Regions from separate parts of the Homo sapiens genome. Here regions 1, 2, 3, 4 and 5 are each linked to region 6. The links come from fine-mapping of genetic effects on gene expression. A gene starts in region 6. Each other region holds a variant in brackets. All regions are shown on one strand. Distances are from middle to middle.

Region 1 (4,107 bases), 53 kb before region 6:
GAATTGCTTGAACCCGGGAGGCGGAAGTTGTAGTGAGCCGAGATTGCACCACTGCACTCCAGCCTGGGTGACAGAGCGAGACTCCGTCTCCAAAAAAAAAAAAAAAAAAAAAAAACAAACACTAAATAAATAAATAAATAAATAAATAAATAAACTACCCCAAAGGCATTTTTCTGCTCTGTCCACTGTGACCTATGACTTCCTTAGTTTAAGAATATTTAAGATTGATAATAGCTACCACTTACTGGTAGCTTATTATGTTAGGTTTTAATATTTCATATATTTATATTTTATATTACATATTATTATATCACATATTTGGAAACCAAAGCTCAGAAAAGCTAAGAAATTATCCCAAACCCACATAGCCGGAAAGCAGCAAGGCAGGAATTCACACTCAGATCTGGTATCAAAGGCCATTATACTACTCCCATTTCAAGTTAAGATTCTGACACATGCCATGACAATGTCTCGATGTCACATGTGGCTAATGAGCATTAGAAACGTGGCCAGTGTGCTGAAAGTATAATATACACACTAGATTTCAATGAGGAAGAAAAAACAATCCAAAATAGCTCGATAATTTTTTGTACTGAATACATGTTGAAATATTTTAGATGTACTGGGCTAAATAAAATATTAAAAATTTTACATTTCATTTTATTTTTTACTTGGCTGCTAGTTTTTAATTACATTTTAAAACCACATTATATGTGACTTGCATTGAATCGCACTGGTCTAGATATTTCAGAAAAGAATCCTGATGACACAGGCATCATTCTTTCACCTAAGTCTGTATCAAATCAATACTACAGTGATGCTGAAAGGAAATGAGATACCAGAGATGGCCTCTGTAATGATGAAATGTATACAGCATATGCTATCTTCCTGGCATCACCTTCCCATTAAAGTGAGCCTAGTACTTTTCAGATGCCTTGGGCTAAGTAGCAGATTCGTGTAAACCTTGAACTTCAGCAGATACTACACAGTCTACCTACCTATAGTTTCCCTGAAGCTTTACTTGCATATATCAGTCCCCTCACTTCCTTTCCTGAACTGTTTGGTGCTGCTGGGGGTCACAGTAGTCCTTACTGGTTGTTTGTCTACCAGGCTAAAGTATTTTAGCATCGTTCTGAATGAAACATGATTTGAAACATCATATACACAGACATACATGCACAAAAAATGCAGCAGATTAAAACATTCAAAGGAAATCAAATACATAGAAAAGTAAGTAGCTAAATAACCAATCCTACCTAGTGAGCTATTAGAATAGAGCAAAGAAGAAAAGAGCGGGGCAGGATACCTTTTTGAAACAGCTGTTGTTCTTCTGTAAGAAGGGTTCAGCAATAACTTCCTACATTAACAAAACCTTTTGGAGGAATCAGTGGTATTTTCTACCTTACGATACTGCCTTCAACGTTTATAATACTTCTAGTTTATGTAGTTTATCATCCATTAGTTATTTTCAAAGTACTAGTAACAGAGCTTAAAACTTCTAAAAACAGATTTCTGAAAAAAGAAAGAGACCTGACTTTGATACATAACCAATTTCAAAAATAATTCTATCAAGATTTGGGAAAAAAATAAACATTTGTCCAAGCCAATTCTCCTTTAAATAGAATTTGCTGTGAGAAGACATCAATTTTTCCTGTAGATCATAAAAAGGACTTCAGAAACAATACTTTTAAAAACTTACATAACACTGTTTTTTGAAGAGCTTATACTACACCATAAAGTTAAAATTAACACATGGAGAACTGAAATATTAAGGGTGACATGGTTTGCTCCAAGCCAAAGTCTGTATCAAATTTGGAAAAAGATTCTTTTTTTTTTGTTTTTGAGACAGAGTCTTGCTCTGTCACCCAGGCTGGAGTGCAGTGGTGCAATCTCGGCTCACTGCAAGCTCCGCCTCCCAGGTTCACACCATTCTCCTGCCTCAGCCTCCTGAGTGGCTGGGACTACAGGCACCCACCACCATGCTGGGCTAATTTTTTGTATTTTTAGTAGAGACGGGGTTTCACTGTGTTAGCCAGGATGGTCTCAATCTCCTGACCTCGTGATACGCCCGCCTCGGCCTCCCCAAGTGCTGGGATTACAGGCGTGAGCCACCGCGCCCAGCCAGGA[CAA/A]AAAGATTATTTTAAAAGTCTGCACCTTTCACTTCATTATTTTACTCCTGGTCCAGATAACTTTTACATTTTTGTGGAGAGAGGAGTGAAGCAGCAAATTTCTTTCTTCAAGTCTTAGATGTAACCTCAGAATATAAAATATATGAAAGTACACGTGCTCTGGTTAAGAAAAGTGGGAAAATAAATAAATAAGGCTAGGTACAATGGCTCACACCTGTAATCTTAGCACTTTGGGGAGGCTGAGGTGGGAGAGTTGCTTGAGGCCAGGAGTTATAAGACTAGTCTGGGTAACATAGTGAGACCCTGTCTCTACAAAAAATTTAAAATAAATAAATAAATAAAAAAGAAAGAAGAGTGGAGAGGCCCTAATGAGCTTAACCCACTTACTATCCCTCACTTCTTCAGGACCCCTGCAGCACCTCTATGCCTAAGGCTCCATAGAACACTTTTTGAAAACAACTGCTGTAAATCCAAATTTCCTGTGTAAGTTTTATTTCCCAACACCCATATACTTCTCTCCATATTTATATTTAAATTTTACTATATATTAGGTTAAGAAAATCCAAATACGACTTTTTTAATTTTTATTTTTAGAGACAAGGTCTTGCTCTGTTGCCCAGGTTGGAGTGCCACAGTGGTGTGATCATAGCTTACTGCAGCCTCAAACTATTGGGCTCAAGTGATCCTCCCACCTCAGCCTCCCAAGTGGCTGGGACTACAGGAACATGCCATCACACTGGCTAATTTTCTAAACATTTTTTTTGTAGAGACAGGGTCTGGCTATATTGCCCAGGCTGGTCTTTAACTCCTGGCCTCAAGCAATCCTCCCGCCTGGACCTCCCAAAGTACTGAGATTACCAAATACGATTTCATTTCACTGTTTAAGCATAATTAGTATTTTTACATTTGCTCATTTCACAATACTACGCAACAAAAAATCAAATTCTCCTAAAACCCAAATTACTTTCTTCTAACAAACGGTAATCGATATATACTTTGCTTACAGGAAAATAAAAAAAAAATTTTTTTCTTTCAGATGGAGTCTCCCTCTGTCATGCAGGCTGGAGTGCAATGGCATGATCTCAGCTCACTGCAACCTCCGCCTCCTGGGTTCAAGCGATACTCCTGCCTCAGCCTCCCGAGTAGCTGGGATTATAGGCACCTGCCACCATGCTCAGCTAATTTTTGTATTTTTACTAGAGATGGGGTTTCACCATGTTGGCCAGGCTGGTCTCCAACTCCTGACTTCCAGTGATACCTCCACCTCGTCCTCCCAAAGTGCTGGGATTACAGGCTGATTTTTAATATTTATAATAAATGATTTGGTTCTATTTTAATACTTTCCTTATTACTAGCTTCTTGCCTTTAGCTTTAATATGGTCAGAACCATAGCTAGGAGAGAAGTTCCTTCTATAAGAATGTAGAAGCAGTTCCATTGGCAGATGTGCAACCCTAAAGTTGAGCAACTTCTGGGATACAGATATAACGGTTTTTTGGGTTTTTTTTTTTTTTTTTTGAGATGGAGTCTCGCTCTGTCACCCAGGCTGCAGTGCAGTGGCAGGATCTCGGCTCACTGCAACCTCTGCCTCCCGGGTTCAAGTGATTGTCCTCCCTCAGTCTCTCGAGTAGCTGGGACTAGAGGCATGCGCCACCATGCCCGGCTAAGTTTTATATTTTTAGTAGAGACGAGGTTTCACCATATTGGCCAGGCTGGTCTTGAACTCCTGACCTCATAATCCGCCCACCTCGGCCTCCCAAAGTGCTGGGATTACAGGCGTGAGCCACCGCGCCCGGTCAATAAAATGTTAAATACAGAATTCTAAAATACAGATATAATGTTAATCCCACATTACAACGCACAAAACGCTAGCCATTATATTCATGTCACGACTAGAGGAAATGGCAGTAAAAAGTGGTCTGGGGAAGTGAAATAGCTTGTATTTACTACTTGGTAAAAGCATTCGGTGAAACCTGACAG
Region 2 (4,107 bases), 88 kb before region 6:
TGTTGCTGGCAAGTAACCATGGTGGTGGGTGACCACTAGCGAAAAGGGCTGAAGAGACCTCAGAAGGTCATCCAGGTTATCCTCCTGCCTTGACACAAGACACATGTGTCTCTCTAGCCAGAGTTACTTGCAGTTGCACTCACAAGTGGGGACCCCAGGTCTCCTTCATGTGATTTTCTCTGTGTACATATTTCGAAGATTCCCAAAGGCAGCATTTTTACAAGGTGGAGCTGCAGGAAGCTTCGGGGACTTGACAGACTGAGTCCAGAGCAAGCCCTCGCCCGTGGGATCTTAGCAGGAACCTGGGGGTGAAGAGGAACAGTGCAGTCCCTGAGAGGCAGCTGAGAGTACGGGCGAGCACCCTCACACTCCAGGATGAGGGCGGGGGGCAAAAAAAGAGTGGGTGCAGAGCCTGCTCATCGAGAAAGATGAAATTCTAAGGGGATTAAGAGCTAAGAAGTCAGTAGCTGAGGAGCCCACAGCTAAGTTCTCTCAGCTGGGAATTTCTATCCCAATTCTTCCTAAGTAAACCCTCTCTCGCTAAAGCAGTGGGTCTCAATAGGGGATGTTCACACGGGACATTTGGCAATGTCTAGAGACATTTTCGTTTGTCATCTCTGGGAGGGGGTGCCACTGGCATCTAGTGGGTGGAGCCCACCACACACAGGACAGCCCCAACACAGAGAATGGTCAGAACAGCACTAGTGCCAAGGCTGAGAAACCCGGTCCTGGAGGGGGTGCTTTACCCCTAAGATTCTCAATTTAGCATGAGCGGAGGCCCTTGGGATTTACAGTCAGATGAATGTGAATGCCCCACCTCAAGCCCTAACATGCCTAACATGCCACTGCCATGTTGAGCAGAAGTCCCCAATTATCCCAGAGTGTTCCACAAATGTCCAGACAGCTGCTGGAGGTTCAAATTCCAGCCAATACAACTCCAACCTTACATCCTTCTGTCTTTCTCTTCTGAAAAGCCTCCTATTTCTTTCTCAGAGCCAGGGCTACCCCGATGGCCACTGCCAGGATGGCAACAGCAGCAGCCCCTCCAAACAGCAGTATAGACTTGCCCTCAGACAGCGGCATGGGCTTCATCTCACCGGCGGGGGACAGTCTAGACTTGCCCTCAGACGGCGGCACGGGCTTCTTCTCGCTGGCAGGGGACAGCTCTTCCACAAGGCTCTCTTCCCTTGCGTTTATCTCCTTCTCACTCAGCAGCGTTTCTGTGGGTTCCAGTGCGGGGACCACCTCCTCCACTTCAGTAGGTTCAGTTGTTGCTGCTTTCACCTCTTCTTCATCAAGTTCTACAAACAGAGATGTAGCAGGGCTGGATTTCTCAACTGTGATCACTTCTGTGTCAGGTTCCCTTGTCCCCAGCAGGGAGGTGGCAGTGATATGTGGAAGCAAGGGAGCTGGGGCTTCAGGAAGTGCCTCTTGCAGCTCCCGCGCTGGCAAGACCACAGAAGCCACAGCAGCCTCTTCCATGCCCTCGGGCACCTCTTCTTTCTCCACGTGCACAATGTCAGAATTAGAGGAGTTGTTCTCACTCTTCTCTCCAGCTCCGTTGCTGTCTAAGCTTTTCACTTCTTCAGGATCCATTGCAATCTGCTGCCAGGACTCAGGGCCTAGTGACACTGGCAGGCTTTCTGTGTGCCAACTCTGGCTAGC[T/C]GACAGTGACACAGGTAAGCTCTCAGACTGCCAGGAAGTGGTCACAGTTGGAGACTCTGGGGGACTGACTTGTCCAGAGTTGTCGCTGGGCAGGATGTAAATGTCATTGCTATCTTCTGCAGTGATTCCAGGGTATTCCTCCTCCTCTGACTCAAGACTAAACACAGTGCCCTAGAAACGAAGGACAAGCGTCAATAATAAAGAATGGTAACTATTTAAAACATAAACATCAATCTGGAAAGCAAATTCTTTCCTAAACTGAAGTTCTAGGAATGAAACACTGTTTAAACCTACATAGTTTCCGAATGGAATGCATGTATTTGTAGGCCAATGCAGAGAAAGAATTTTTGACAGTCTTCTGAGCAGTCTCCTTGAAACTAAAAAATCCTAAGTTAATATACATTCAGTGTAATTCACACACAGGCTGAGAGCATCCTAATCTGAAAACCTGAAATCTGAAATGATCCAAAATCTGAGGTTTTTTTTTTTTTTTTTTTAAGATGGAGTCTTGCTCTGTCTCCCAGGCTAGAGTGCAGTGGCACAATCTCAGCTCACTGCAACCTCCGCGTCCCAGGTTCAAGCGATTCTCCTGCTTCGGCCTTCCCAGTAGCTGCAATTATAGGCACCTGCCACCACGCCCAGTTAACTTTTGTATTGTTAGTAGAGATGGGGTTTCACCATGTTGGCCAGGCTGGTCTGGAACTCCTGACCTTCAGTGATCCACCCGCCTTGGCCTCCCAAAAGTGCTGGGATTACAGGCGTGAGCCACTGTGCCCGGCCCAAAATCCGAAACTTTTTGAGTGCTGAAATGACATCACAAGTGGAAAATTCCACACTTGACCTCATGTGGTGGGTTGCAGGCAAAACACAGTCAAAAATCTGCTTCATGCACACAAAATATTATATATATTTATGTTATAAATATTGTATATTTGTAAATTAATATATTAATATTATATAAAATTACCTTCACGCTATATGTATAAGGTGCATACAAAAAGAAGTAAATGTCATGTTTGGGCTTTCCCATCCCCAAGACATCTCATCACATACACACAAACATTCCAAAATCAAAAAAAAAAAAATTAAAATCCAAAACACTTCTGATCCCAAGCACTTTGGATAAGGGATACTCACCCTGTATGTTCAATGCAGTAATTAATGCAAAACAGCAGAGAAAACAAAGGCAAGACCTTGTGCTCAAGGAATTTATCACTTAGTAGGGTATACAAATAATGCTATGTCATAGTCCAAGTGCCATTAAGAGTTCATATGGCAGTGTTGCTTTCCTTAGAAGAAGAAGAAAAAAAGTTCAGATGGGAAAAAGACCTCTTTGGGTAGAGGTCAGAGAAAGCAGGGAGATCACAGAAAGCCTCACGGAGGGACTAGCATTTCTATCAGACATCTGAAGAATGGGTAAGATTTTGGCAGGCGAAGGGTACACAGAAGACACAATGCAGGCAAAAGCACAGAGACAGAAAAAAAAGAAGATAAGGACAGAGCCCTGTTTAATTAATGCAGAGTGCCCATGAAGAATAGAAGGTCAGTGAGGACAGGACCATGGAGGAACCTGAATGACAGCTAAGAAATATGGACTTTATCCAACAGGCGATGGTTTGTCACTGACATCTCTGAGGTACAAAATTATAATCAGAGCTTTGCTTTAAAATTCCTCTGATGGCAGAGACAGAATGGAGAAATGCTGCAGACACGGAGACTCTTGCTTCTTTTGTCAGGAAGTCTGAGTGAAAGCAATAAAGCCCTACAGCACAGGCCTTGTGTCCATGTCTATTAATAACAGGCCACCGTGTGCCTACTGCTTATCAGGGTTGTGTCAGGCACAAGGGCTACGAGAAAGAATGGGTCTATTCTTACAGAATTTACTAGGCAGCTGTGAAGCCTGACATATGAATAACTAACTTCAATATGATACAGAAAGCTTTATGACAGGTGTATGCACAAGGGGCTAGGCCAACCCAGAGGGTAAGGCGCAATAAAAGGACAGGAAGAGAACCAATGGAATGGAATGTCACAGAGATGTACAGAAATTGTCATACAAAGGCTAGACAACACTCGTAAAAGCTACAGGGAATCTGAATGGAATATGTAAAGCAAATTAATTTCTACTTCATTTTATGATTATGGTTGCTATTCAACTGAAGTAGGATAATTTCATTCTTCAACCAAAACCAAAAACTTTCTACATACATCAAGGATCTAACATAAATCAAAAGTCTATCAGCCCCATAAAAAAGGAAATAAGAAATACAAATAAATCACACGACCATGATGTCGGCATCATACTGCACCACTTTCTACCTCGACCCTTGCTCCAGCCACTTCAGAGGCCCTGGTAAGCATCAAGGATGTTCTATGAGTATGGAATAATCAGGGGGTTAAAATAATACAGTATGACCACAAAATTCACAGTCAAAAACAACT
Region 3 (4,107 bases), 93 kb before region 6:
CTCTCTCACACACTGACTCTTCCACAGCATCTTCACCTGCTTCTGTTTCACTTGAATTCATACAGTAGGCCACCATTTTATAACAGGTCTTAGTGTAAATTCTTCCAGACCAAGTCTGAGATAGTCTTGGTTGTAAAGCAAGACCGTCACCCCTTCTCCCAAAGCCAACATTATAAAAAGATTCCATTGTCTCAAACACAAATGTTCCAGTCTTGAGCACTTCCCAGCCATGGTGACTCGGGCATATCCTGGCAGTTGGTGGATTTTGCCCTGTAACACAATCCTTGTGGATATGATTCAAAGGTGACTTTAATTCAGAGAATGTGTTTTCCTTTCTGTTTTAAAAATATTTGAATTAAGTGATGGAAATTCTTTTGTTAAACATCAAAAGCTTTCTCCTTGAAAAGATGCTTGGTGTATCTGAAAGTCACGTGGGACATTTGGTGCATTCAGAAGGTCAAATCATTCCTGACCTCTCCTCTTAGGACCCAGCATTAACTGCTGCGATACTCAAGGCTTCCTTAAAGGATCACAGCACTGGCGCCTAGTTTTACTGTCCAGCAACTTTATTAGTTGTGCTAGCTGAGAATTGGAATATAGAGTCCTTTGAATGTTACGATCTTGTTTTCAAAACCTGGAGTCAAACCAATTAAGTATGGACTTAACAAAGACAATTGATGATGTGAAATGATACCACCTGTCAAGGGCATAGTTACCATGTGGATAGAAAGATGAGTCCACTGATTATCTTCAAATCCCATGTATTCTCTCTAGCACGTTGCTTCTGACAGAAAGAATAACTCACAGATTTGAAGTTTGTTCCTTTCCCCTGATGAAGAGTAGATTGGCCAAAAGGTAGATGACAGGAAGGAAGAGGAGCCAGAATGACCCACAGTGATCAGTTCAGCAGTGCAGAGCGGCAGTGCAGAGGCTCATGGAACTCACACGGAAAAAGGAAACACATGCTGCTTAAAATGCACGATAACTTAATTATCCAAATTACCATTCAATTCCGGTATTTTTGAGATGAAAGCATTTGAGCCAACACTAAATTGACCTTAATTAAGGAATGAGGTAGGAAGAGGCACTTTTAATCTGGAGGAAGAAATAAATGGAAGACTGTAATAGGAAAAATACAGGTCTAGGAAAAAAATAATTTTTTTCCTTTGATGCTGGCCAAGGACCCCTCTACATAATACAGTTCTCCTGCTGGAAAGCATCAGGGCAAACAGAGTTATTCCAAACTCTGCAACAGGGAAGACTGTACTTTGACCTTCTTTTCCTGGGGAAAGGGAACAACTAGTAATCTTTAAATGTCAAAACTTTTCTTCTAAATAGTACATTCATTAACCAGTTTCTTCTGGTGGTGCAAAGAACACTCACCACAGTGAGCAATACCACTATTCAATTTCCCCTTTGGAGAGGTGACAGCGGGGTAGAATCACCTGGAGTCAGCTGCTAGTCTTTAACTGATGACAAGGCCTTGCAAATACCCCTGAGAACAATTTCACTCTGAGCTCACAGGGAAGCAGCAGTCTGGTGTGGGCTCCTGTGGTGTAACCATCAAATGTGGAAGACCTGATGGTGTTAGTGTGTGGGGATGCCGGGCTGAAATTCAACAGCCTTGCAAAAAGAAAGGGAAGATGGGATGTGTTAATATTGTAGTGGCATGCACTTTCCAGCTCTCCATGGAGCTCTCTTTATATATGAGGTAATTGAATGTCACTATTCTGTACCATACAGCAGGTATTATCTAGCCAAGGTTATAATTACCATGAAGTGCTGTGGAATGTAGTAGGAGGCTTTTCACTGGGAAGATCCTCCAGGAGCTGACGTACTTGTGGCCATACCTGGTCAACCCTCCTAAGTCCCCAACCTCTTTGTCTGTCCAGAGGCCAAGCAATGCTTCCAGGTATTCCCCTACTTCACTCCACAGCCCCACCCTTATGATGGCATACACAGGGGAGAAGGGACGAACTCGAACAAACAGAAAAAGACCAAGAAATGCATCGTGGTGCTGTCTTCACCCCCCTCATTTAGCACTTTGTGATAACTGCTGGGACAGATTGCCTAACCTTGTCTACAAGCAAAAATATTTAATCAAGAAAGCTAATGAAAGCTCATCGGCAATGACTGTGAATTCTGTAACCACAAAGCATCTCACTCAATGTCTACAGGGAAAACAGCTACATAATTGGAAGCTGAGACCAGTCCTGGACCTAACCCTCACTCTTGTTTTTTTGTAGTAGAACATGCTTAATGTTTAAGTGAGCCTATATGGTGCCTTTGTACAAATTAGAAAAATACTTCGCTTCTCCCAGAGCCCACAGCATGGTGAGCAGAGCACAGGCTGCACGTCGGAATTTGTCCCCAGTCAGTCCTTATGCAGTAAACAACTGGCGCAACTGTTTGCAGGGGACCTGCCAATACTGCTTTGCAGTGCCAGGAAAATGATAAAAACCGGCAAAATCATTGCCTTGCCTC[G/T]CCTATGCTTGAGGACGTTAGAAAAACTAACTCTGGGCCGGGCACGGTGGCTCACGCCTGTAATCCCAGCACTTTGGGAGGCCAAGGCGGGTGGATCACGAGGTCAGGAGATCGAGCCCATCCTGGCTAACATAGTAGAGACCCTGTCTCTACTAAAAATACAAAAAAAGCAGCCGGGTATGGTGGCGGGCGCCTGTAGTCCCAGCTACTTGGGAGGCTGAGGCAGGAGAATGGCGTGAGCCCGGGAAGCGGAGCTTGCAGTGAGCCGAGATTGTGCCACTGCACTCCAGCCTGGGCGACAGAGCAAGGCTCTGTCTCAAAAAAAAAAAAAAAAAAAAAAAAGGAAAAAGAAAAACTAACAAACTCTGATTAGGTTCTTCATTCTGTAATATGGGAATAAAAGGAATACAAACAGCTATTAGAACTGTGAAGGTGAAATAAGGTATGTGAGAGCACTAGAACCGTCTCTGGCATGTTATAAATGCTCAACTAGTATTTGCTAAAATATAATTATCGACATGAATTTTTTTTAGGAAAAATTATACACCCTAAACTCAAATGAATGTCATAATTGAGAGATTATCACTAAGGGCAGGTTTTGGTGCACCAGAGAAGAGGAAACATTATTCTGGTATCCAGTATGTCGCTGAGATGTTAAACGAGATAATGCTTGTGTGGGAATTTGGGCAGAAGCTCTAGGTCGTGTCTGTTAGCAATCAGATAGCCTACAAGGCCGTCTTGATGGGTATGATCACCACCTCAAATTCTTGGAAAGATAAGTTTGTGTGGAAAGATGTAAGAAATTAAGAGAAAGGGAAAATTCTTAGCTACAAAACGTTTTATTTCTATAAAACATCTCTTAAAATAATTCAAACACTGAAATGTCCACATCTCATACCTTTCAGGAGAAAGGCAAGGAGACTACTTGCCTTACTGTCATATTATTGAGGGAATCAGCGCAAAGCCTGAGGAAATGAACAGTAGCTGTGGGTCAAAGCCATGTCTCCAGGTTCACGGCTCACTCCCCCAGGACAAGCCTAGTTAGGTAGTGGCTGCATCTGGTATCCCTGGGACAGAAATGCAGGTGAGAAGGGGTATCAAGAATGCCTCGAGGGGGAGATGGGTGAACCAGAAGGTCAACAGTTGCATTTCTTCATCTAGAATGTTCTCTAGAAGGGAATGATGATCATGAGAGTCCCCTTAAGGCACACCGCAGGTACTGACTGATTTCTGTGGGCCCAGAATTATCACTTTAATACAGAGAGGATAAATTGGCGTTGTTTTTTCCCCCCAATAAATCATTACCTTCAACAGAGCAGTTGAGATGAGGTCTAAGGACTAACAAGAACTTTTCTATAAACAAGTTGGATTTATTCTGAATCTTTCCTTCACCTTAGACTTAGAGGGTATAAGTTGGAGGTGGAAGGAATGGCCTCCTACTATCAGCTCCTCCCCCCAAAAGGAGGGGAAGCTTGAGAAATAGTTTTTTAAATGTATGAGCAAAAAGCAGGAGCTGCAGTAGGAAGCAGTCCTCATGAGGGCTGTTCCCTTCCACTGCTGGAGGCAGAGGGTGAGGACGTGAAGGAAGAACAGGGATGCTGCCACATCCTGTTAACTCAGGAG
Region 4 (4,000 bases), 30 kb after region 6:
TTATTTATTGCCCTTATTTTCTCTTTGCTTTAATTTTTTAATCCACTTGTTTATATTTTATTAGTTATTTTTTCTAATTTGCTTTTTAAAAAACGTAATTAACGTTTTCATTAGATATACTTCTGTAAGCTGCCTTAAATCTATTAGAATATATAAATAATTACTAGTTGGCTTTTAGAAGGAATTTTTTTTTAAGAGGCATGGTCTGGCTATGTTGCCCAGGCTGGAATGCAATGGTGCAGTCATAGCTCACAAACTCCTGGGCTCAAGCAGTCCTTCCCACCTCAGCCTCCTATGTAGCTGGGATAACAGGCAAGAGCCACCATGCCTGGCCTCAGAGGGAAAATTTGAAGTGGCATAGATAAGAAAACTTGACACCTAAAATTCAGATCATTCATTCATTTATCAAATACTTCAATATCGGTGCTTCTCAACTTTTTTCCCTTCTCTCTGGAATATTCATACAGTTATTTTACATTTTAGTAACATCTCTCATGACACACAGTGGTTTTCAAATTTTGAGGTGGAGGATATTAAAAGAAAGTGTGGGGCTGGGCGTGGTGGCTCAGACCTGTAATCCCAGCACTTTGGGAGGCCGAGGCGGGCGGATCACGAGGTCAGGAGATTGAGACCATCCTGGCTAACAACGGTGAAACCACGTCTCCACTAAAAATACAAAAAATTAGCCGGGCGTGGTGGTGGGCGCCTGTAGTCCCAGCTACTCGGGAGGCTGAGGCAGGAGAAAGGCGTGAACCCAGGAGGCCGAGCTTGCAGTGAGCTGAGATCGCACCACTGCACTCCAGCCTGGGTGACAGAGCCAGACTCCGTCTCAAAAAAAAAAAAAAAAAAAAAAGAGCAGGATGGGCATGGTGGCTCACGCCTGTAATCCCAGCACTTTGGGAGGATGAGGCGGATGGATCACTTGAGGTCAGGAGTTTGAGACCAGCCCGGCCAATGTGGTGCCCTGTCTCTACTAAAAATACAAAAAAATTAGCTGGGTGTGGTGGCGGGCGCCTATAGTCCCAGCTACTCGAGAGGCTGAGGCAGGAGAATTGCTTGAACCCGGGAGGCGGAGGTTGCAATGAGCTGAGATCCCGTCATTGCACTCCAGCCTGGGCGACAGAGTGAGACTCCGCTCAAAAAAGGAAAAAAAAGGAAGTGCAGTTGTATGGAATGAATTTTTGTTTGTTTGTTTGTTTGTTTGTTTTGTTTTGTTTTGTTTTTTGAGACGGAGTCTCGCTCTATCGCCCAGGCTGGAGTGCAGTGGCAGTGGCGCGATATCAGCTCACTGCAGACTCTGCCTCCCGGGTTCACGCCAGTCTCCTGCCTCAGCCTCCTTGAGTAGCTGGGACTACAGACGCCCGCCACTGCGCCCGGCTAATTTTTTGTATTTTTAGTACAGACAGGGTTTCACCGTGTTAGCCAGGATGGTCTCGATTTCCTGACCTCGTGATCTGCCCGCCTCGGCCTCCCAAAGTGCTGGGATTACAGGCGTGAGCCACTGCTCCCGGCCAATGAATGTGTTTTAATTTCAACTTAGGATAGTTTTCCAAAATACAGTAATCCATCATATTCTTTCAGAGATGGGCTAGCCAGGTGCCATGGCTCATGCCTGTGGTCACAGCACTTTATGAGGCCAAGGTGGGAGTGTGGCTTGAGGCCAAGAGTTTGAGACCAGTCTGATAAATATAGGGAGACCCTGTCTGTACAAAAAATTTTTAAAAATTAGCAAGGTGTGGTAGCGCATGCCTGTGGTCCCAGCTACTCTGGAGGCTGAGATGGGAGAATCACTTGAGCCCAAGAGTTTGAGGCTCCAGTGAGCTGTGATTATGCCACTGCATTCCAGCATAAATGACACAGGGAGACCCTGTCTCTAAAAATAATAAATAATAGAAACAAAAAGAAATGGGCTAGAGAAAAATAATTCTTTTTATGACCTTGAAAGACAAAGCAGTCATTCAGTTCATACCACATGTCTTTCCCGGATTTAGTCACTCTGAGTTTGTCTGCTGACTTTAAAATTGTTGCAAACAAAATTCTGGTTTTGGTACTCATGTTATCCCTCAGTTGTCACTCTTCTGTTTTCATGTCATAACTCAGTTGGGTTCCCTTGAGGCACTAAGCTGTTTGAATTTAACAGTACATTTATCCCATGTGTCCTGTATCGTGCTGGCCCCTCTAGGAGTCTGCAGTCTAATAGGACCTGGACAAGATAATACATCTCCACTACAGCTGTTTGAGCATGACTTGAAGTATTAGTCATGGGATAGGATACAGAATGGAGAGAGCAGTGTGAGTGAAAAACCGAGACCTGAATTTGACATGTGCGGGAAACAGAGGTAGTCTGGCAGAGTGGGGAGTGGGCAGAGAACAGGCCACATATTAGGGTCTAATTAGAAGGGCCTTGAGTGTCTGCTGA[A/G]GAATATGGACTTCATCCTTTTGGCTAATTCTCTAACTTTAATGGGCATAAAAATCACCTGGGGGACCTTGTTAAAATGCAGATGTTCATTCCCATTTCCAGAGACTTTTATATTCTAGTCAGGAGTCAGCATTTAAACCAGCAGCTCAGGGTAATCTTGGTGCAGGTAGTCTGAGAACCACACTTTGAGAAATAGTGTTTAATGGTTACATTTGTGTTAGAGGAACCCCACTGGTGACCATGTGGAGTAGAAACAAGGAGGGTATGGCTTACCTTCCAGGTCGAGAAGTAGAATGGTGGCAGCAGAAAGAGAAGACAGGCCTATTCCAGAGATCCTAAAAAGGTAGGAATCTGTAGGACTTGGTGACTTACAGTTGTGATGAGTGAATGCAAAGGAGTCAAGAATGACATAAGAGTTTGTAGTCTAGGCAACTGGTAGATGGAATGAAGATTAGAAATATGGGAAGATAATCCCAGCACTTTGGGAGGCCGAGGCAGGCAGATCGTGAGGTCAGGAGATCGAGATCATCCTGGCAAACATGGTGAAACCCCATCTCTACTAAAAATACAAAAATTAGCTGGGCCTGGTGGGGGGTGCCTGTAATCCCAGCTACTTGGGAGGCTGAGGCAGGAGAATTGCTTGAACCAGGGAGTCAGATGTTGCAGTGAGCCAGGATCACGCCACTGCACTCCAGCCTGGCGACAGAGTGAGACTTCATGTCAAAAATAAAAAAAAAAAGAAATATAGGAAGAACAGGTAAAGAATGGTGAAAAAAATCATTGTGTTTGAATTGCCTTAGGATTCCAGGTGAAGCTCTATGAGTCTGTTAGGAGAGAAGAGGAGCTTATGTGGAGACAACACAGAAGTCCCTGCTGGAGCTGTGGTTTTGGATGGAGAATTAGAAGAGAAGCGGGCCAAAAAAACTGAGAAGCATCAGATTTAATAGAAAATAAATTGCTAAGGAAATGTGGGGGAAAGCAGTTATGTTGGAGAATACAGAGAAGCCAAGGGAACGGCAAACTCAAAATGGTCTCTAATACAGTGTTCAATGTTTGAGAGAATGACAGTGGGAAGAGCATGGTGGTCTTTGGATTTGGCAGTCAAGATGTCGTTTTTCACATTTGCCAGAGCAGTTTCATTGGACTGATGAAGGCAGAAAGCCAGATTGTTATGGCATGAGAAGGGAGAAGTGCGTGTGAGGTGAGGAGCTGAAGGCAGCGTGCGTGGCCTGTTCACAAGCTGGGCTGTGTGTTTTAATCTCTTTTGGAACAAATCCAAGTATACTGTTGCATGCAACTTGAATTCAGTATATAGCTTGAGCTTTTATATTATTTCTCTGACTTATAATGAGAATTTTGAGAAGATAAACATTTATGTAATTTCAGTTATTCTAAAGATACTTGTTTCTTTTTTAACCGCTTACAGTCTTAACTTCTTGCCGTCATTGAACCCTGTAAATAAGAGATGTGGAGAGTTGAGGAAACAGACTGTGAAATGATACCGATCAAACAGGATTCAATCTGCATAAAAGCACACATACATGCTTTGAGTGGATTTTGCTATTTCTAAACTTTTTACTT
Region 5 (4,107 bases), 46 kb before region 6:
GCTGAGGCAGGAGAATCACTTAAACTCGGGAGGCGGAGGTTGCAGTGAACTGAGATCGCACCACTGCACTCCAGCCTGGGTGACAGAGCGAGACTCTGTCTCAAAAAAAAAAAGAAAAAAAAAGAAATATAAAAGACAAGACTAACATTAGGTTTCAGGATTATTTGTACATTTCATTTTTTTTAAATGGTCTCACTCTGTCACCCAGCCTGGAGTACAGTGGCATGATCTTGGCTCACTACAACCTATGCTTCCTGGGTTCAAGAGATTCTCATGCCTTAGCCTCCGAGGTAGCTGGAATTACAGGTGTGCACCACCATGCCTGGCTAATTTTTTTGTATTTTTATAGAGGCAGGGTTTCACCATGTTGGCTGGGGTCATCTCAAACTCCTGGCCTCAAGTGATCCACCCACTTCAGCCTCCCAAAGTGCTGGGACTACAGGCACCGCACCTGGTCTCGGGATTATTTGTACATTTCTATCTGTGTTTTTTCTCTACTAACGAGGAACATGAGTTATGAACATAATTTATAATTTTGATCATTAAAAATTATTGGGCAGGCTGGGTACGGTGGCTCACGCCTGTAATCCCAGCACTTTGGGAGGCTGAGGTGGGCGGGTCATGAGGTCAGGAGATCAAGAACATCCTGGCTAACACGGTGAAACCCCGTCTCTACTAAAAATTACCAAAAGAGTAGCTGGGTGTGGTGGTGGGCACTGTAGCTCCAGCTACTCAGGAGGCTGAGGCAGGAGAATGGCGTGAAGCTGGGAGGCGGAGCTTGCAGTGAGTCGAGATCCCGCCACTGCACTCCAGCCTGGGCAACAGAGCGAGACTTTGTCTCAAAAAAAAAAAAAAAAAAAAAAAAAAAAAGAAAAAGAAAAAATTATTGGGCAATATATGTCCACACAAAAACTTGCACAAGAATATTCACAGCAGCATTATACATAATAGTAAACAAGTAGAAACAACCTAAATTTCCATTAACTAATGAATGAATAAACAAAATATGACACATCCACACAGTGGAATATTATTTGACTGTAAAAAGTAATGAAGTACTGATACATGCTACAACATGGATGACCCTTGAAAACATTATGCTAAGTCGGCCAGGTGCAGTTGTTCACGCCTGTAATCCCAGCACTCTGGGAGGCCGAGACAGGTGGATCATTTGAGGTCAGGAGTTGGAGACCAGCCTGGCCAATATGGTGAAACCCCGTCTCTACTAAAAACAAAAATTAGCTGGGCGTGGTGGTGGGTACCTGTAATCCCAGCTATTCAAGAGGCTGAGGCTGGAGAATTGCTTGAACCTTAAAGTCGGAGGTTGCAGTGAGCCCAGATCATGCCACTGCATGCCAGCCTGTGCAACAGAGCAAGGCGATGTCTTAAAAAACAGCAACAACAACAAAAATACATTATGCTAAGTAAAAAATGCCAGTCACAAAAGACCACATAGTGGCCAGGCGCAGTGGATCACGCCTTTAATCCCAGCACTTTGGGAGACCGAGGTGGGCGGATCACCTGAGGTCAGGAGTTCAAGACCAGCCTGAGCAACATGGAGAAACCTTGTCTCTATTAAACGTACAAAAAATTACAGGCCGGGCGTGGTGGCTCATGCCTGTAATCCCAGCACTTTGGGAGGCCAAGGCGGGCAGAAAACAAGGTCAGGAGATCAACGAGACCATCCTGGCTAACACGCTGAAACCCCGTCTCTACTAAAAATACAAAAAATTAGTCGGGTGTGGTGGCAGGCGCCTGTAGTCCCAGCTACTCGGGAGGCTGAGGCAGGAGAATGGCCTGAACCCAGGAGGCGGAGCTTGCAGTGAGCCAAGATCCCGCCACCGCACTCCAGCCTGGGCAAAGAGCCAGACTCTGTCAAAAAAAAAAAAAATACAAAAAATTAGCCAGGTTTGGTGGC[A/G]CATACCTGTAATCCTGGCTACTCAGGAGGCTGAGACAGGAGAATCATTTGAACCTGGGAGATGGAGGTTGTGGTGGGCCGAGATGGTGCCACTGCACTCCAGCCTGGGCAATGAGAGCGAAACTGCATCTCAAAACACCACCACCACCACCACATAGTGAACTATTCTATTTATGTATATTTCCAGAATAGGCAAATCAATAAAAACAGAATGGAGATCAGTGGGTGCCTGGTGTGGGGTGGGGTTGGGGCCTGGGGCTAGTGGGAATGGGAAGTGGCTGCTAATGTGTATTGTGTTTCTTTAAGGAGAACCGAAAGTGTTCTAAATTTAGATCATGGTGATAAATTCTGTGAATACACTACAACCACTGAATTGTACTTTATTATTATTATTATTTATTTAATAAATAGAGACATGGTCTCCCTATGTTGCCCAGTGTGGTTTTGAACTCAGGGGCTCAAGCAACCCTCCTGAGGCCTTGGCCTCCCACAGTGCTAGAATTACAGGCATGAGTCCCTGTGCCCAGACTGAACTGGACCTTTTAAATGGGTGAATTTTATGGTATGTAAAATATATCTCAATAAAGCTGTAAAAATATATTTATATCATTGGGTAAGATGTTCAGTGCAGCATTACCTATGGAAGACAAAACCGGAAATAATGCAAATGCTGTGTAGTCGTCGTCCAGTGAAAAAAGGAATAATAATCCAAATGCTCCCCTCAATAACAAGGGAACAGGCCAGGCATGGTGGCTTACACCTGTAATCCCAGTGCTCACTACTGCACTCCAGCCTGGGCAACAGAGCAAGACCCTGTCTCTGAAATAGTAATAATAATAATAATAATAATAATAATAATAATAATAATGGAATGACTGAGTAAAAACATTTATTCAGTGAATGAAATTTCACGCAGTTAGTAGAGTAACTATTTTTAAAGTTTATGTTGTAATGTTAAGTGCAAAATAAAATGGCTATAAAGTTGAATGTACATTATAATTACAGTTATCTATAGTATATATGTATGCAAAAATAAAAGCGTATGCTTACTTTTTCCTTTTTATGTCGTTATTACTTATAAAGGTAATACTAAATACAAATCAAACCATAGTGAATGGAAAGAACCTTAACATGATCATTTATCCGATACTTAACATGAGAAACTGCTACATCTAACCTGTTAGGTATAGTTGGGGAACTTCCATCAACATATCCTCCAGGAAAGAAAAAAGGCTACCTTCTAGTTTTACCCTTATAAACTTCTACCAATGTATAATTGGTGTAAGTTGTTAACTGTTGAGAATACCCCACTGTAAAAATCAAATTAAACCAACAGTAAACCATAACAAACACAATCTGCTTATTAACTAGAAAAATAAGAATAAACAGACCTTCAGAAATTTCTTTGTCCAGAGATTTTAGCTCTTCTTCAATTTCAGTTTTAACTTTTAATAAAATTTCTTGATCCAGAGATTGTGAAGCTATATCTAGTTGAACCCCTGAAAGCAACAAAAAAGGTTATTATTGAAAGAGGGAGAGAGAAACCATTAGAATATAATAGCACTTTTTTTTTTTTTTTTGAGACGGAGTCTCGCACTGTCACTGGGGCTGGAGTGCAATGGCATGATCTCCGCTCACTGCAACCTCTGCCTCCTAGGTTCAAGCGATTCTCCTGCCTCAGCCTCCCAAGTAACTGGGATTATAGGCGCCTGCCACCACGCCTGGCTAATTTTTTTGTATTTTTAGTAGAGACAGGTTTCACTATGTTGGCCAGGCTGGTCTCGAACTCCTGACCTTGTGATCCGCCTGCCTCGGCCTCCCAAAGTGCTGGGATTTCAGGCGTAAGCCACTGCACCCAGCCCTACAATAGCAATTTGTTAAGCCAAAAAATGCAAAATCAAAATTCATTATCAAAATTAGGGACGGGAGGAAATCCTTTTTGCAATAATTAAAAAACAAAAATCAAAAACAACCTTTAGTAGAAATATTTGGGCCTATGGATTGAGAGTGAGTAAGTCTCCACCTTTCCAGATGTTTCTGCCAGAAACAGGGAAATTGAGCTGAATCTTCAGAAACACATTAACTCAAGAGGAGGTTGGGAAAGATGTATCAATAAGTCGGGCCAGTCCTCTCTTTTTGTAGACAATGTATCCTTTTTAAAAAGTATGAAGATGGAATATGATAAAAAC
Region 6 (4,107 bases):
AGCAGTCCTCCCTCTCGCCTCAGTCTTCCAAGTAGCTGGGACCTATGCCTGGCTAATTTTTTTTTTTTTTAATTTTTTGTGAAGACAAGGTCTCCTTATGTTGCCCAGGCTGGTCTCGAACTCCCGGGCTCAAGCAATGCTCCTGCCTGAGCCTCCCAAAGTGCTGGGATTACAGTGAGCCATCGCAAACAGCCAAATGAAATGTTGTTAATGATTATTACTGTTGCAAACCACTTGTCCTAAAAGCTTAATGTGTGTGATATTTAATACATGTTGATTAGATTATGTGCTAGTAAACACAAGTCTGTTTTTTTACAAGACTGGTTAGATATAGCCTTAGGCATCTTTCAATTGAATTCAACTACTGGTCCTTGCTGTAGGAGACAACTAAAAATAAAATAAAAAGTGAATCCAACTACTGAATATACTCTTCCACATAAAAAATGAGCCATTGGAAAAAAAATACAGAACAGTACCTGACCATTCCTAGTAAAAAGATTTTCAATACCCTTAACTGCCTATTACCAAATGAAGAATACTTCACTTGGGGGAGAGAGGGTGTTAAAAATGAAAATAATACTTCATGCGGTGGCGCGGGGGTGGTTGAAAAAAAGGTATCACCGTGCGCGGTGGCTCACGCCTGTAATCCCAACACTTTGGGAGGCTGAGGCGGGGGGATGACCAGAGATTGGGAGTTCGAGACCATCCTGACCAACATGATGAAACCCCGTCTCTACTAAAAATACAAAATTAGCCCCGCGTGGTGGCGCATGCCTGTAATCCCAGCTACTCGGGAGGCTGAGGCAGGAGAATGGCTTGAACCCAGGAGGCGGAGGTTGCGGTAAGCTGAGATCGCGCCATTGCACTCCAGCCTAGGCAACAAGAGGGAAACTCTGTCTCAAAAAAAAAAAAAAAGAAAGAAGGTATCTGAAGGGTGTGGCAACTCATCCAAGGTCACACTAGTCAGGGCAGAGAGCAACATTCTGCTTTATACTAAACCTCCAGAGGAAATCTTATAATTTCGCCAAAGAAGTTTTTGTTTTGTTTTACGCAACAACAACAAAAAAATAAAAGTAAGGAGGGAGGGCTCTCAGCTTAGTTCAAACTTCTAAACAGAGACAGTGAGATAGCTATTTTGAATAAACAAACACTTGTGCAGGGAGTGGCTAAGAGCTAACCAAAGCCAGCAGTCAACAGCATGTGAACAACTGGCCAGATCCGTCCGATTTTCAACGCTAGGTTAGAGCCTCCACTCAGAAAGTCGGTTATGAAGGCAAGAAATAGGATCTTTACAGAATGTTGGGAGGATAAATCAAAGGGGGAAAATGACTCCGTGTGAACTGTACTGCCTCCAAGGGCAAGAAGGCAGTTTTTTTCTGAAAAAATAGGTGTCAGAACAGCAGTGAATTAAGGTTAAGAAACAAGACTTCTAACAATCTCTGAGAAGAAACGACTAAGACTGGCAAAGCTAATCTTCCAGTGTTCTAAGTGAATCGCAGGAAAACCTTTCCCTCAACCAAAAAGAAGTCGCCGTTCCCCAGTTTAGCCCTAAAAATGGACCCGGGTTTTCCACGTGAAGCTGTCTGTGGGGAAGGACAGCGGCGTGGAGCCAGGGCCGAGCTCCTCCGCCTCCGGCACCCCACGCCGGAAGAAGCCTGCTCAGCGGCGGGGCCGCGCGGCCAGGTCCGGTCACGGTGAAGCGGACCCCTAAGCTCCGAGCACCTTCGGGCGAAGGAGCGCCGGTGTAGACACACACACTCAAACTCACGCGTCGTCGGAACCACTGGGGAGTCGGTGGCTCGATACGGTCTCTGGGCACTTTCCTACCCAGGTGAAAACCACCTCCTCACCCAGCTCAGCCTTCCCGGAACCCCACTCCCCTCACCTGGCCCTGGCCCCTGCCCCAGAAGAGATGAAAGAGGCGGCGGCGGCAGTTGCTTCCGACAGGGTCCCCCAGCGGCGGTGAGTGCTCCGACCCGCGGCCCTAATCTACCGCCGCCGCCATGTTGGAGGGTGAGGTCACCCCGGCGTGCCTTCGTCACGGCCGGCGTCGGGGCGGGACCTGAACTACCTGACATCCGGAACGGTATCCGGAGCGGAAGGACCGACCAACGGAGGCCCCGGAGGTCTCTCCGTCCAGATGTGACCTGAAGACCCAAACCCTCCTAGCCCGCCCAAATCTGATTGCGACGTTCGGAAGTTCCGTCTCTCAGATCATTTCCGGAGTCGAGGGGTTGGGATTCTGACCGGCTGGTCGCTGTGTTGGAGGAAGGGCAGGCGATTCCAGGGAAAGAAGCCTTGCTGCATGCACAGGCTATGTTCAGTTCCACAAACATGTATTGCGTTTCAAGTGTTTGCCAAGGGAGCAGGTCAAATAAGTATCTACACAGTCACGACAGCCTCGATGTTCGCCACTAGTTGGGGCAGATGGTCCTTGAAGGTTGGGAAGGAATTCCGGGGAGGGAATATAGCGGGGTGGTGTAGAGAGGTCCTCCTAGGCGAAGGGAACTGGCTGAGCAGAGGCGCCAGGGCATGAAGGAAGTCTTAACTAGTAACCCGCTTTTGTTAACAGTACCTGGAACACACAGCGCCTGGAACATACTTAACTTGTATTAATGGATGTTTGTTTACTTGAATCCGAGAGTTCTTTGGAGGAGTATCGGAAGGTATCTAGGAGAGAGGATACAGTGTGTTTTAGGGAGATCAAATTGCCCGTGGTGTGTGTACTGAATTGGAACAAGGAGGGCATTGACAATAAGGAGTTAGAAGACTGAGCCAGATCAGAAGTGATAAAATCCTGATGGGGAGTGACTGCCAGTGGATACAGAGTTTCTTTTTGGGGTGATGGTGGCACGACTCTTTGAAATACTGAAAACTACTGAATTGTACACTATAGGTGAATTCTATGTTATGAGATCTATATCTCAACAAGGCTATTCTAAAGGAAGTGATAAAAGAGTTGAACTGCTATTGTGGGGCTGGTGCCACAGGATGCTTTTTAAGCCCGAGTGACTGAGGAAAGGATGGTGCCATTAATAGGGACATAAAGTTTTGCAAAGGAAAGGCTTAGTGACCTTGGAAAACTAATAGTACAGGCCGGGTGTGGTGGATCACTCCTGTAATCCCAGCACTTTGAGAAGCCAAGGTGGGCGGATCACTTGAGGTCAGGAGTTTCAGACCTGCCTGGCCAACATGGTGAAACTCCCCATCTGTACTAAAAACACAAAAAATTAGCCAGGTATGGTGTCACGCGCCTGTAATCCCAGCTACTTGGGAGGCCGATGCAGGAGAATCGCTTGAGCCTGGGAGGCAAAGGTTGCAGTGAAATGGGTAACCAAAAATGAAGACTTTTTTTTTTTTTTTTTGAGGCAGAGTCTCACTCTGTCGCCCAGGCTGGAGTGCAGGGGCGCGATCTCAGCTCACTGCAACCTCTGCCTTTCGGGTTCAAGCGATTCTCCTGCCTCAGCCTCCCAAGTAGCTGGGATTACAGGCACCCACCACCATGCCCAGCTAATTTTTGTATTTTTAGTAGAGGCAGAGTTTCTCCACGTTGGTTAGGCTGGTCTTGAACTCCTGACTTCAGGTGATCCACTCGCCTTGGCCTCCCAAAGTGCTGGGATTACAGACGTGAGCCACCGTGCCTGGCTTTTTAAAAATTTTTAATAGAGACGGGGTCTCACCATGTTGGCCAGGCTAGTCTCCTACTCCTGACCTCAAGAGATCCGCCTGCCTCAGCCTCCCAAAGTGCTGGGATTACAGGGGTGCGCCACCGCGCCCGGCCCTAATTTTACTTTTAAGGTCTGTGCAGTTCACTGTATGTACACTTTACCTAAAAAAACTTTCAAAAATGTAACATGCAATAATTTATTTTGGGAGGTACTTATGTTACCAATTTGGTACATACTTAAGTTCATTTCTTTCACATTGCTCTCAGTCTTTTCCTTTATTTATTTATTTATTTTTTATTATTATTTTCTCGAGACAGAGTCTTGCTCTGTCACCCAGGCTGTAGTGCAATGGCGCGATCTCAGCTCACTGAACCTCACCTCCTGGGTTCAAGCGATTCTCCTGCTTCAGCCTCCTGAGTAGCTGGGATTACAGGCACCC

Alleles and levels. Positions count from the first base shown, and alleles are read on the strand shown. Sizes are in standard deviations (SD) of each study's normalised expression. Not every link is listed here.
As copies of C replace T in region 2, the expression in cerebellar hemisphere of the gene that starts at base 2,015 in region 6 goes down (small effect, 0.38 SD a copy in GTEx).
In carriers of allele G in region 4, the expression in activated naive CD4 T cells of the gene that starts at base 2,015 in region 6 tends to be lower than with A alone (large effect, 1.3 SD a copy in Schmiedel 2018).

What was found. PIP is the estimated chance that this variant, and not a neighbour inherited with it, causes the effect.
Region 1: its variant is fine-mapped to the expression of BCL2L13 in whole blood (INTERVAL, PIP 0.98).
Region 2: its variant is fine-mapped to the expression of BCL2L13 in cerebellar hemisphere (GTEx, PIP above 0.99).
Region 3: its variant is fine-mapped to the expression of BCL2L13 in whole blood (TOPMed, PIP above 0.99).
Region 4: its variant is fine-mapped to the expression of BCL2L13 in activated naive CD4 T cells (Schmiedel 2018, PIP 0.95).
Region 5: its variant is fine-mapped to the expression of BCL2L13 in whole blood (TOPMed, PIP above 0.99).

The regions. Positions count from the first base shown.
Region 1 is chr22:17,689,381-17,693,487 of GRCh38, reverse strand. The region is part of intron 4 of BCL2L13 (BCL2 like 13); the gene reads right to left. Among named protein-coding and RNA genes, the nearest start is that of BCL2L13, 53 kb to the right of the region's middle. The variant CAA/A (reference allele first, on the strand shown) is at 2,128.
Region 2 is chr22:17,724,406-17,728,512 of GRCh38, reverse strand. BCL2L13 (BCL2 like 13) reads right to left here. Exons shown (of 7, transcript NM_015367.4): 7 at 1-1,836. The coding sequence ends at 979. Among named protein-coding and RNA genes, the nearest start is that of MIR3198-1, 38 kb to the left of the region's middle. The variant T/C (reference allele first, on the strand shown) is at 1,666.
Region 3 is chr22:17,729,820-17,733,926 of GRCh38, reverse strand. It overlaps BCL2L13 (BCL2 like 13), which reads right to left. Exons shown (of 7, transcript NM_015367.4): 7 at 3,072-4,107. Among named protein-coding and RNA genes, the nearest start is that of MIR3198-1, 32 kb to the left of the region's middle. The variant G/T (reference allele first, on the strand shown) is at 2,485.
Region 4 is chr22:17,606,318-17,610,317 of GRCh38, reverse strand. The region is part of intron 4 of ATP6V1E1 (ATPase H+ transporting V1 subunit E1); the gene reads left to right. Among named protein-coding and RNA genes, the nearest start is that of ATP6V1E1, 20 kb to the left of the region's middle. The variant A/G (reference allele first, on the strand shown) is at 2,420.
Region 5 is chr22:17,682,524-17,686,630 of GRCh38, reverse strand. It overlaps BCL2L13 (BCL2 like 13), which reads right to left. Exons shown (of 7, transcript NM_015367.4): 3 at 3,310-3,417. Among named protein-coding and RNA genes, the nearest start is that of BCL2L13, 46 kb to the right of the region's middle. The variant A/G (reference allele first, on the strand shown) is at 1,919.
Region 6 is chr22:17,636,665-17,640,771 of GRCh38, reverse strand. BCL2L13 (BCL2 like 13) reads right to left here and starts at 2,015. Exons shown (of 7, transcript NM_015367.4): 1 at 1,886-2,015. RefSeq lists enhancers at 1,133-2,005, 1,774-2,053, 2,174-2,353, 2,404-2,453, 2,006-2,877 and 1 more.